Regions from separate parts of the Homo sapiens genome. Here all the other regions are linked to region 2. Evidence: fine-mapped expression QTL. A gene starts in region 2. Each other region holds a variant in brackets. All regions are shown on one strand. Distances are from middle to middle.

Region 1 (2,735 bases), 410 kb after region 2:
CTCCAACCCCCACCTCAGCCCTTCCCTGCCCCCGGAGGCAGCTGCATCACTGGGCTCCCCTGATGGCAGGTGTCCCCTGAGAGCCACTGGGAGAGCAGCCCATGTCTTTGCTGTGAGGGCACCCAGCCTGAGAGGAAGGCTCACCCCCAAGGCTGCCCGCCCCCTGTACCTGGGCCTGCGGTTGGAGCTGCCGGCTGCTATGTCCAGGCCCTTGGTGGAGAGGTCAGCCTGCTGCTCAGCTCTGTCCCACCCGCTCCCGCCGGGCCCTCCATCCTGCCTGCATCTGCCCTGTCTCCTCTCTGGGCCATGTGCCGTGGAGGGGACACCCTGCTCCCAGATGCTTTATGGAGCAATGGCGGGCACTCCCCTTCGAGCTGGGCCATGCCAGGCTCCAAGGGACCAATGGGGATCCTGGCCAAAGGCTCCAACCAGCACGGTGACTCCATGGAGCAGCCCAGGGGCAGCGTGGGCACTGGTCTTGGGGCTCTGGGACCTCCCTCCTTGGACCAGGTCTTCTGAGAGCCTCCCTGACCTGCAGGGGGAAGCTAGGTGCCAGTGCCAGGAGGAGGTGGGTAGAGCCGTGGGCAGTACTGGGCATGGGAGCCCTCTCGCTCACCTCCTGACACCCTCCCTGATGCCCTTCCTTGCTGTGTAGGTGGTATAGGCCCAGGCCTGGGGGCTGGAGGAGTGGCCTGTGGCTCCGGGGACTGCTGGGCTGAAGCACTGGACTGGAGCCCCTGGGGAGGTGGTGGCTCCCAGAAGCCCTGACTGGGAGTGGCCCAGGGACCTGGGGAGTAGGGCAGGCACCCAAGTCTGCCCCCAGAGGTGTCCCCAGAGGTCACTGGGCTGGGGGCCACCACAGGGCAGGGGATCTGGAGTCACAGGAAGACAAAGCCGAGGGAGAGGAGCCAGGGGACAGATGCCAGTGGGTGCAGCAGAGCAGGGCCAGCTCCATGCCACCTGCCTATACCAGGGGGGTGACGGGCAGAAATGGGTGCAGCGGAGCAGGGCCAGCTCCGTGCCACCTGCCTATACTGGAGGGGTGACGGGCAGAAATGGGTGCAGCGGAGCAGGGCCAGCTCTGTGCCACCTGCCTATACCGGAGGGGTGAGGAGCAGACAGGCATGTGGCCCGTCCCTGGGCACACAAGAAGGCTTGGTCTGGCCAGCCTAACACCCCCTTCTTGCAGCGAGGGGCTGGCATACACCCAGGTTTTGTGGCCTGGCAGGGG[C/T]GCTGCCTGCAATGGCTCACCGCAGGAAGAAGTGGCTCTGGGGTGTGCTCCAGGCCACAGGCCATAGCCAGCACCACCATGCCTCCCAGCAAGACCACACAGACAGTGTCCAGGCATCCGGTGAGCAGGGCTGGGGATGGATGCGGTTGGCCTGGCAGTGCCTTGGGGAAATGCGGGTTCCACCAGAGCTCCTCTGGGGTCAGGGCCCCGCAGTCGGCAGCAGCCATGCTGTGCGGCCAGTGTGGCAGGTGTGGACAGGGTCCAGGCAGCCTGGGTGAGCAGGTGTGAGTGTGGACCTGGTGGGTGGGTGAGAGCAGAGCCAGGGCAGTGGTCCCAAGCACCCTAACCCCTGAAGGCCTAACCTGTCCCTCCTGCACCTGCGTGGGCGCCTGCAATTACCCTCATGGTGTGCATTGGAGGTGGCTGGCTGGCTCTGGATGATTTTCTGGTCAAGAATGACTCAGGCAGAGGTGGGGGCTGGAGCTTGGGAGAAGGGGGCACTTGTGGGGGTGGGGAGCACCTGAGCCCTCAGGACCTCCAGGACTACGGGACAGAGGAGGAGGGGCCTTGGGGACAGAGGAGGAGGGGCTTTGGGCCCTGTACTTCCGTGGCCCTGCCCACCTGGGATATCGGGGCAGCCAAGGGGAGGGCCCTCCAGAAGATCCATGGAAGGTTCCCGTGCCAGGCTGAGGCTGCCCCCAGGCCAGCCCCCGAGGCTGTGAGCCTCCATGCCCAGTGTCTCTGGCATGCCCCAGCCTTGGAAGGTGGGTGCCAGGATGGGCTTCAGAGAGGGGACCAGGTACTCCCAGGGTGACAGGGAACATTCTCTGTGCCCAGGTGGAGGAGCCAGACCGGGGGGTGAGGCCTGGCACTGCTCCAGGCAGGACATCCCAGCTCTTACAACGTCATGGGGGCAGGGGGGCCTGCCAAGGAGAGCCTTGAAGACCCCTGGACCCAGCAGACACACGACGTGAAGCAGCGTCCCCAGGAAGCTGAGCAGACAAGGTGGGGTCGGGGCTGGAGGCAGGGACACCAGCCCGCACCGCATTAGTGGCTTGTGGGGATAGAAACCGCCGCTCTGGCCGGTCCGCGTTTCACTCCAAACTCCTTTCCCAAAAAAAAAAAGCTGTTCTGAAGGGCACAGGACGCCTCCGCGCCCGCCCTGCGTTCCTTCGCGGTGACTCCCTGCTGGGGACGAGGGGAGGGTCCCGGCTGCCCAGCCGCCGCCCCTTGCCCGGGGTGCAAGCGCCAGGCCCGGGCCGCGCGGGGTTTCCGGCACCTGCCCGCCCCGCCCCGCCCCGCGTCGGGGCCCCGACCTGGGCGCCGCCCTAGACGGGGGCGGGGCCTGTGGGGCTTGAAATGCGGGCGGAGCGGGCGCGCGGAGACACTGCGGACCGAGCGGCGAGCGGGCAGGTGCGGCGGGTGCGGCGGGTGCGGCGGGTGCGGCGGGTGCGGGCAGGTGCGGCGGGTGCGGGCAGGTGCGGCGGGTGCGGGTGCGGGCTCG
Region 2 (2,747 bases):
GGTCATCACTTGCCAGCCGCAGGCGGTGGCTCTGCCCCTCACCGGACACGACGTCACAGCCGGGATGTGAACAGCAGATTCTGATCTCCAACTCCAGACAATCACTGATTTACTTCTGCAAACCGGAGCTGTCCGGTCTTGCAGGGTCGGACCATGTAAACAAGCCTGCTGCCAGGCAACTGAAGACAGAAACACGAATAAAGATGCCCCATAAGGAATGAAAAACAAAACTCCTCTTGGGAAACCCAGATTTGGGATTCGGAAACGGGCTTGAGATCAACCTGAAGCTTCATGACGTCTTACTGTTTCCACTGCCTTTCCTGTTCCACTACAGCAACGCCCTCCACTTCACGTGCCAAGTCCTGACTTTCTCCTAATAGTTGCCGACCCAGCACCCCGTAGGCTGTCCCCTGGGGACGCCGATGTCCTCTGGGGCATAGCGTCCGCTGGCGAAGCCGGGTGCTTGCCCTAAGCGCGGACACTTCCGCAACCGCCCAACAGTTAGCAGAAGCCCAATACAAGAGACGCCCCATTCTCCCCATCCCAGGGAAACTTCGCTGGGGCAGGGGTTGAACCGAGTGTGGGTCTCGTAGCCGCTTTCCCAACTTAAGGCTCTGGGTCTGAGCAGGCTCGGGACCCGCCGCCCTTCTCTGGCGGGGGCAGGGCAGGCTCACCGCGCGTAAGCTGAAGTGCGGCAGGGCCCCTCCCCGCAGCCCTCCCGCGCCGTCCGCCGCGGCCCTGCTCCCTCCCGGTCCCCACGGGCCCCGCGCCCGCGCGCTGCCCTCACCGGGCTCCAGCAGATGAGCGCGTCGGTGTCCGGGTCGCTCACGAGGGTCCACAGCTTGGTCAGGAAGGCCGGGACGTTGCTGGGCCCCGCCGCGCCGGGGCCCACGGGCAGATCCATCTCGAGCAAGGAGGGAATAGGCGGAGGGAGCGGCCGCAAAGAGGGGCCGAGGGCCGGGCTAACGCCGTCGCCGCGCCAGCCTTCCGGGCCGCGCCGCCGCCCGCTGCGCACACACAGCCCCGGGGCCCAGCATGGCCGCCGCCATCTTGCAACGGGCGCGCTCCCGCCGCCGCCGCTGCCGCCCTCCCGCGTCACCCCCGGCGCGAGCACGCAGGCCCCGACCCCGCCCTGGTCCCCGGCCCAGCCGCGCGCCTGCGCGTGTTGGTCCCACCCCCTTCCCTCCACCCGCCAATCGGGGCCGGGCTGGGCGGGGCGCGTCCTCCTGCGCACGCGGCCCGGTCGCTGTCGGAAGCGGCTGTGCGGGTGGCGGCCGGCGCGCGGTGGGGCATGGCGGGTTCGCGGGGTGCGGGGCGCACGGCGGCGCCGAGCGTGCGGCCGGAGAAGCGGCGGTCTGAGCCCGAACTGGAGCCTGAGCCCGAGCCGGAGGTGACTGTGGCGATGCGGGGCGGCGGGGCGCGTCCCTAGAGGGCCCGGCGGGCACGTGGCCGCGCTGGGGCGGGTGGGCCCGGCTTCTGTCACCTGGGCGCCCGCGCCCAGTGAATCGGTCTTGGGCGTGGGTGCAGCTCCTCTATCGGGGGGTCTCAGGCAGAGCGGACTGCGGGGTAAAGGACGGCGTCCGGGAAGCAAAGAAACGGGGGAGCGGGGAGTGGGGACGGGGCGCCCCTTGCAGCAGCCTCTCCAGCCGTTCCATTTGTGCATCCTGCCAATAAAAGGGCTCGGCTTGCGCTCCCAGTAAATGCTTAACCTACGTATACGCTAGTTAATTGCGTTTTTATGCTCATGGGATAGACATGAGAATAAGAAAACCTGAATAGAACCCAGTGTCTGCTGCATTTGCTGTATTAGAACTCACTGTTGCTCTCTGCTAGCTCAGCCCTGTCTTGGTTGTGGGGATCATCAAATTGGGTGGTGGAGGGGATGGACAGCCAGCCCCTCACAGCCCCCTCGGCCGCGGCCGCGCTGGGTTGTTGAAACTGCCCCATTGCTTTGTGAAGCGAATTCAACTCATCCTGGCTCCCATGGGCTGAATGGCCCGCAGGCCACTCTAGGCGCCAGGTTCTGCGACTTCCACCCTTGGACTAAACGGTCCTCAGGAGCCAGTTGTTTGCGCCCAGGCCACGGATGCCATTTCCACTAGTTATTGTGATTGTGTAGCCGACTGAATACCAAGACACATCATGACTCTGTGTGAGAGAGGCATTGTGTGAACACTCGGTATGCAATAGCTAATACATGCAGGTCGTACCTTAAGTGAGACTTGTAAACTATTAGGAAAACAGTAAAATCTAGAATTCTGCATTCAACTGCTTCCTTTTTCTTTTCTTTTCCTTTTCTTTCTTTTTTCTTTTTTTTTTTTTTGAGACAGAGCCTGGCTCTGTTGCCCAGGCTAGAGTGCAGTGGTGCAGTCTTGGCTCACTGCAGCTTCCACCTCCTGGCTAACTCAGCCTCCTGAGTAGCTGGGATTAGAGGTGCCCGCCACCACCAGCTAATTTTTGTATTTTTAGTAGAGATGGTTTCACCATGTTGGCCAGGCTGGTCTTGAACTCCTGACCTCAGGTGATCCACCCGCCTCAGCCTCCCAAAGTGTTGGGATTACAGGAGTGAGCCACTGTGCCTGGCCTTCAACTGCTTCCTAAGAGTCTAAGTTCTTGTTCCACCCTTTAAGGCCAGTGAAGGACCCGAACACTGTGTGTGCCGGTGTCACGCAGCCAGCAGGGCTCTGCTCAGAGGCAGCTGTGGTCCTGCTCAGAGAGAGGAGTGGGTGGGTTGGTGCGTGGTTGCG
Region 3 (2,747 bases), 21 kb before region 2:
CAGCAGGGCACTGGTGTCCACGCTGAAGCCGTGGCTGCTCAGCATGGTCTGCAGGTTATCCAGGTTGGAGTCCATAGCATCCAAGTGGTCACTGAGCTCATTCCTGGCCCGGGATAAGGCGGTACCTGAACCAGTGCCCCAGGCCCCACACCCCAATGCCCTCCTGTGGGAGAAGGGCTCCCCTTGACTGTACCCCCCAGGCTGCACCCCCGTGTACGCCTGCACAGGCTGGAGGGGGCAGCGCATTCGAGGACGGCCTGGAAGGCAGTGGAGGCTCTGTGCCCTGCAGGGGTGCGGCTGGGCCTATGCTGGGCATCCCTTTGCCATGAGGGCCTGGGGGCCTTGGTGGCAGTGGACCCAGGAGACAAGGGGCGTATTCAGCTCCAGCACAAGGATCAGGGATTTCAGTGTTCAGGGTTGGTGAGGTTTCCCGTTGCACTGGGAAAACAGGTGGGGCTCTGCTCAGTGTGTGGGTGGCTCAGTCCCTGCCCTGGTGCTGCTGTGGGGATGAGACCCACGGTCTGGTGGCTGTGACCAAGAAAGCCCTAGGCCACAGGGCACACCTGGGCTATGGGACGGACAGCCAGGCTGGGTCCCAGAGGTGCCCTGGAGACCCTGCCTGACAGGAAGTGCAGTCAGCACCGCAGTCTGGATCCTGCCAACACCAGAGGCCGTGCCAGAGCAGGGAGGCCTGTCCCTGTCATCCCTGTCACAGGCAATGACCACAGGCCCGTGGCCAGGGGAGCCATGACGACACTGAGCCCCCGCCACAGAGGGGTCTCGGCTGCTGCCGCCCAGGCCCGACGCTCATGCCCGGCCAGGCTGGGTCTGGTCCACGGCTGTGTGGGAGGGCCCGAGCGCTGGCAGAGCCCTCCTCCCTCCCCAGTGGGGTCAGCGCTAACCCTGGCTGGACTTGGCCATGCGGAGAGGAAGAGGGGCAGGGGAAGAGGCGGGCGACCCTAGACATCTGTGGAGTGCGAGCCAAACTGCAAGATACAAAAACAAGAGCCCCCATTGCAGGCAGGGGCTGGGGGTGTGGAGGCCGGCCCTGCTCACCATCTCCTGCCATGTGTCTGGGCAGCACGACCTGCCAGGGCCCGTGGCCTGTGGCGAGGGTGGCGGCAGCAGGACGGGTGGCTGAGAGCAGGGCCCGGCAGCCTGTCCGGACATGCCCGTGGCTTCTGTGGCGTTTGGGACTGTGGGGTGATCTGGCTGGCACCTGTCTCCCTCCCCAGCCCCGAGCTCCGAGGTTGGGGGTAGGGTCCTGCCTCGCCAGCTGCCCTGCTCAGTCCACTGGGACAGTCGGGGCTGAAGCCCAGGGCTGTGCGTCCAGGCGCTGTGGGTGGGGCCAGGGGTGGGCGGCACTCACTTGTCCAGGCAGGCTACGCTGAGGCACTTTTCAGGGGTGGAGGTGGGCG[G/T]GGGGGAGGGAGGCCGGCCCTCGGTGTCCGTGTGGCCCCTGGCGTCCGTGAGGGCTGTGACGGAGGCGGGGGCAGGTTCACTCTCCCGCAGGATGGAGTCAATGAGGGCGGTCGGGGACAAGAGGGTGTCCACGGAAGATGGGCGCCCGGGACTCGCCTCCTCTACCCGGGGGCTCTGAGGCGGGCTGGGGGGCTCCTCCTTGACACGCACCAGGGGGCTGCTGGATAGGGGCCTGCACACGAGGGGGGCCAGGTGAGCTGGCGTCTCGGCCAGCCCCACCTCATCCCCAACTCTGCCCTGGGCCCACAGGGGCTCGCCTCATTGGGGGACAGGATGGCTGGGGTGATGCGGCCCCCACCTCTCGTCTATGCTCCCGCCGGGGGAGGCCATGGGGCTGGCAGGAGCCAGCTCGGTGATGTCGGAGATGATGGGTCCAGAGCTGGCCACAGCATCAGGGGCGTAGAGGCTGGAGCTGCTGTAGGCTGGGGAGGGGGCCTGCAATCAAAGGCAGGAGGTCCATGCAGTGCCGGCAGGGGCAACCCACCCCACTGCCGCCTGCATGCCTGGGCGGGTGCCCTGTCTCCGGCACTCACCGAGTAGGGGCCCGAGCCGTGGACGTGCTCCAGGGAGAACTGCCGGCTATACTTGGGCATGGAATGTGCTGAGCCACTGTCGTTCAGCATCAGGGGGCTGTGGGGAAGGGTGCAGGTCAGCCACCACCCCCCACCTCGGGGTACCCGGGGCACAGCTGACAGAGAAGGGGGACAGCCCTGGGCCCCGGGTGGTGGATGCAGGCATCCCCAAAACCTCACATCTTTCTCTTCACCCCCAGGATCCGGTTTGACTGCACCAGTGAGATCAGGAACTGAATGAGCTGTGGAGAGAGAGGACACAGTTACCCCGGCCCTTGTGGGGCCCCCGCCGGCCCTCTGGCCCTGCCCCCACCTTGTTGACGACTTTCTGTTGCTGGGCATGCTTCTGCCGAAGGCTGGCCACCTCCCGCCACAGAGCCTCATTCTCACTGCAACAGACCAGGCTGGGTCAGTGGGGCCCAATCCCATGAGCCCCAGGGCTGAGGGAGCCCCACAGACCCTCCCTGTCCCCCATGCAGGAGCAGGGGTAAGTGTGACCATGTCTGGCCTGGCCCACCCCAGGATGAGAACTTGTGTGTGGAGGGACTGGGGGCCAGGGCCAGGGCTTGCTGGTCCCACTGCCCCTCCCTGCCGGGGACACCTGGTGTCACGTAGGGTGTTGGGGATGGATCCATGCGAGCCAGGTGCACCCGGATCCTGGCATCCATCCTGGCAAACACCTGGAGGGCTGCCTTG

The links. PIP is the estimated chance that this variant, and not a neighbour inherited with it, causes the effect.
Region 1: its variant is fine-mapped to the expression of HSF1 in CD4 T cells (BLUEPRINT, PIP 0.95).
Region 3: its variant is fine-mapped to the expression of HSF1 in whole blood (TOPMed, PIP above 0.99). The same link has a PIP of 0.9 or more in T cells, esophagus mucosa, fibroblasts and unexposed skin.

What each region holds. Positions count from the first base shown.
Region 1 is chr8:143,878,347-143,881,081 of GRCh38, reverse strand. EPPK1 (epiplakin 1) reads left to right here and starts at 2,615. Exons shown (of 2, transcript NM_031308.4): 1 at 2,615-2,644. RefSeq lists an enhancer at 1,263-1,905 and a silencer at 2,472-2,561. The variant C/T (reference allele first, on the strand shown) is at 1,232.
Region 2 is chr8:144,289,915-144,292,661 of GRCh38, reverse strand. HSF1 (heat shock transcription factor 1) reads right to left here and starts at 1,058. Exons shown (of 13, transcript NM_005526.4): 1 at 788-1,058. The coding sequence starts at 904. It overlaps BOP1 (BOP1 ribosomal biogenesis factor), which reads left to right and starts at 1,224. Exons shown (of 16, transcript NM_015201.5): 1 at 1,224-1,390. The coding sequence starts at 1,292. RefSeq lists enhancers at 261-320, 1-579 and silencers at 711-870, 981-1,480.
Region 3 is chr8:144,310,867-144,313,613 of GRCh38, reverse strand. HSF1 (heat shock transcription factor 1) reads right to left here. Exons shown (of 13, transcript NM_005526.4): 5 at 2,365-2,440; 6 at 2,232-2,293; 7 at 2,013-2,109; 8 at 1,778-1,914; 9 at 1,370-1,651; 10 at 1-103. Among named protein-coding and RNA genes, the nearest start is that of MIR6848, 5.1 kb to the left of the region's middle. RefSeq lists an enhancer at 298-829. The variant G/T (reference allele first, on the strand shown) is at 1,419.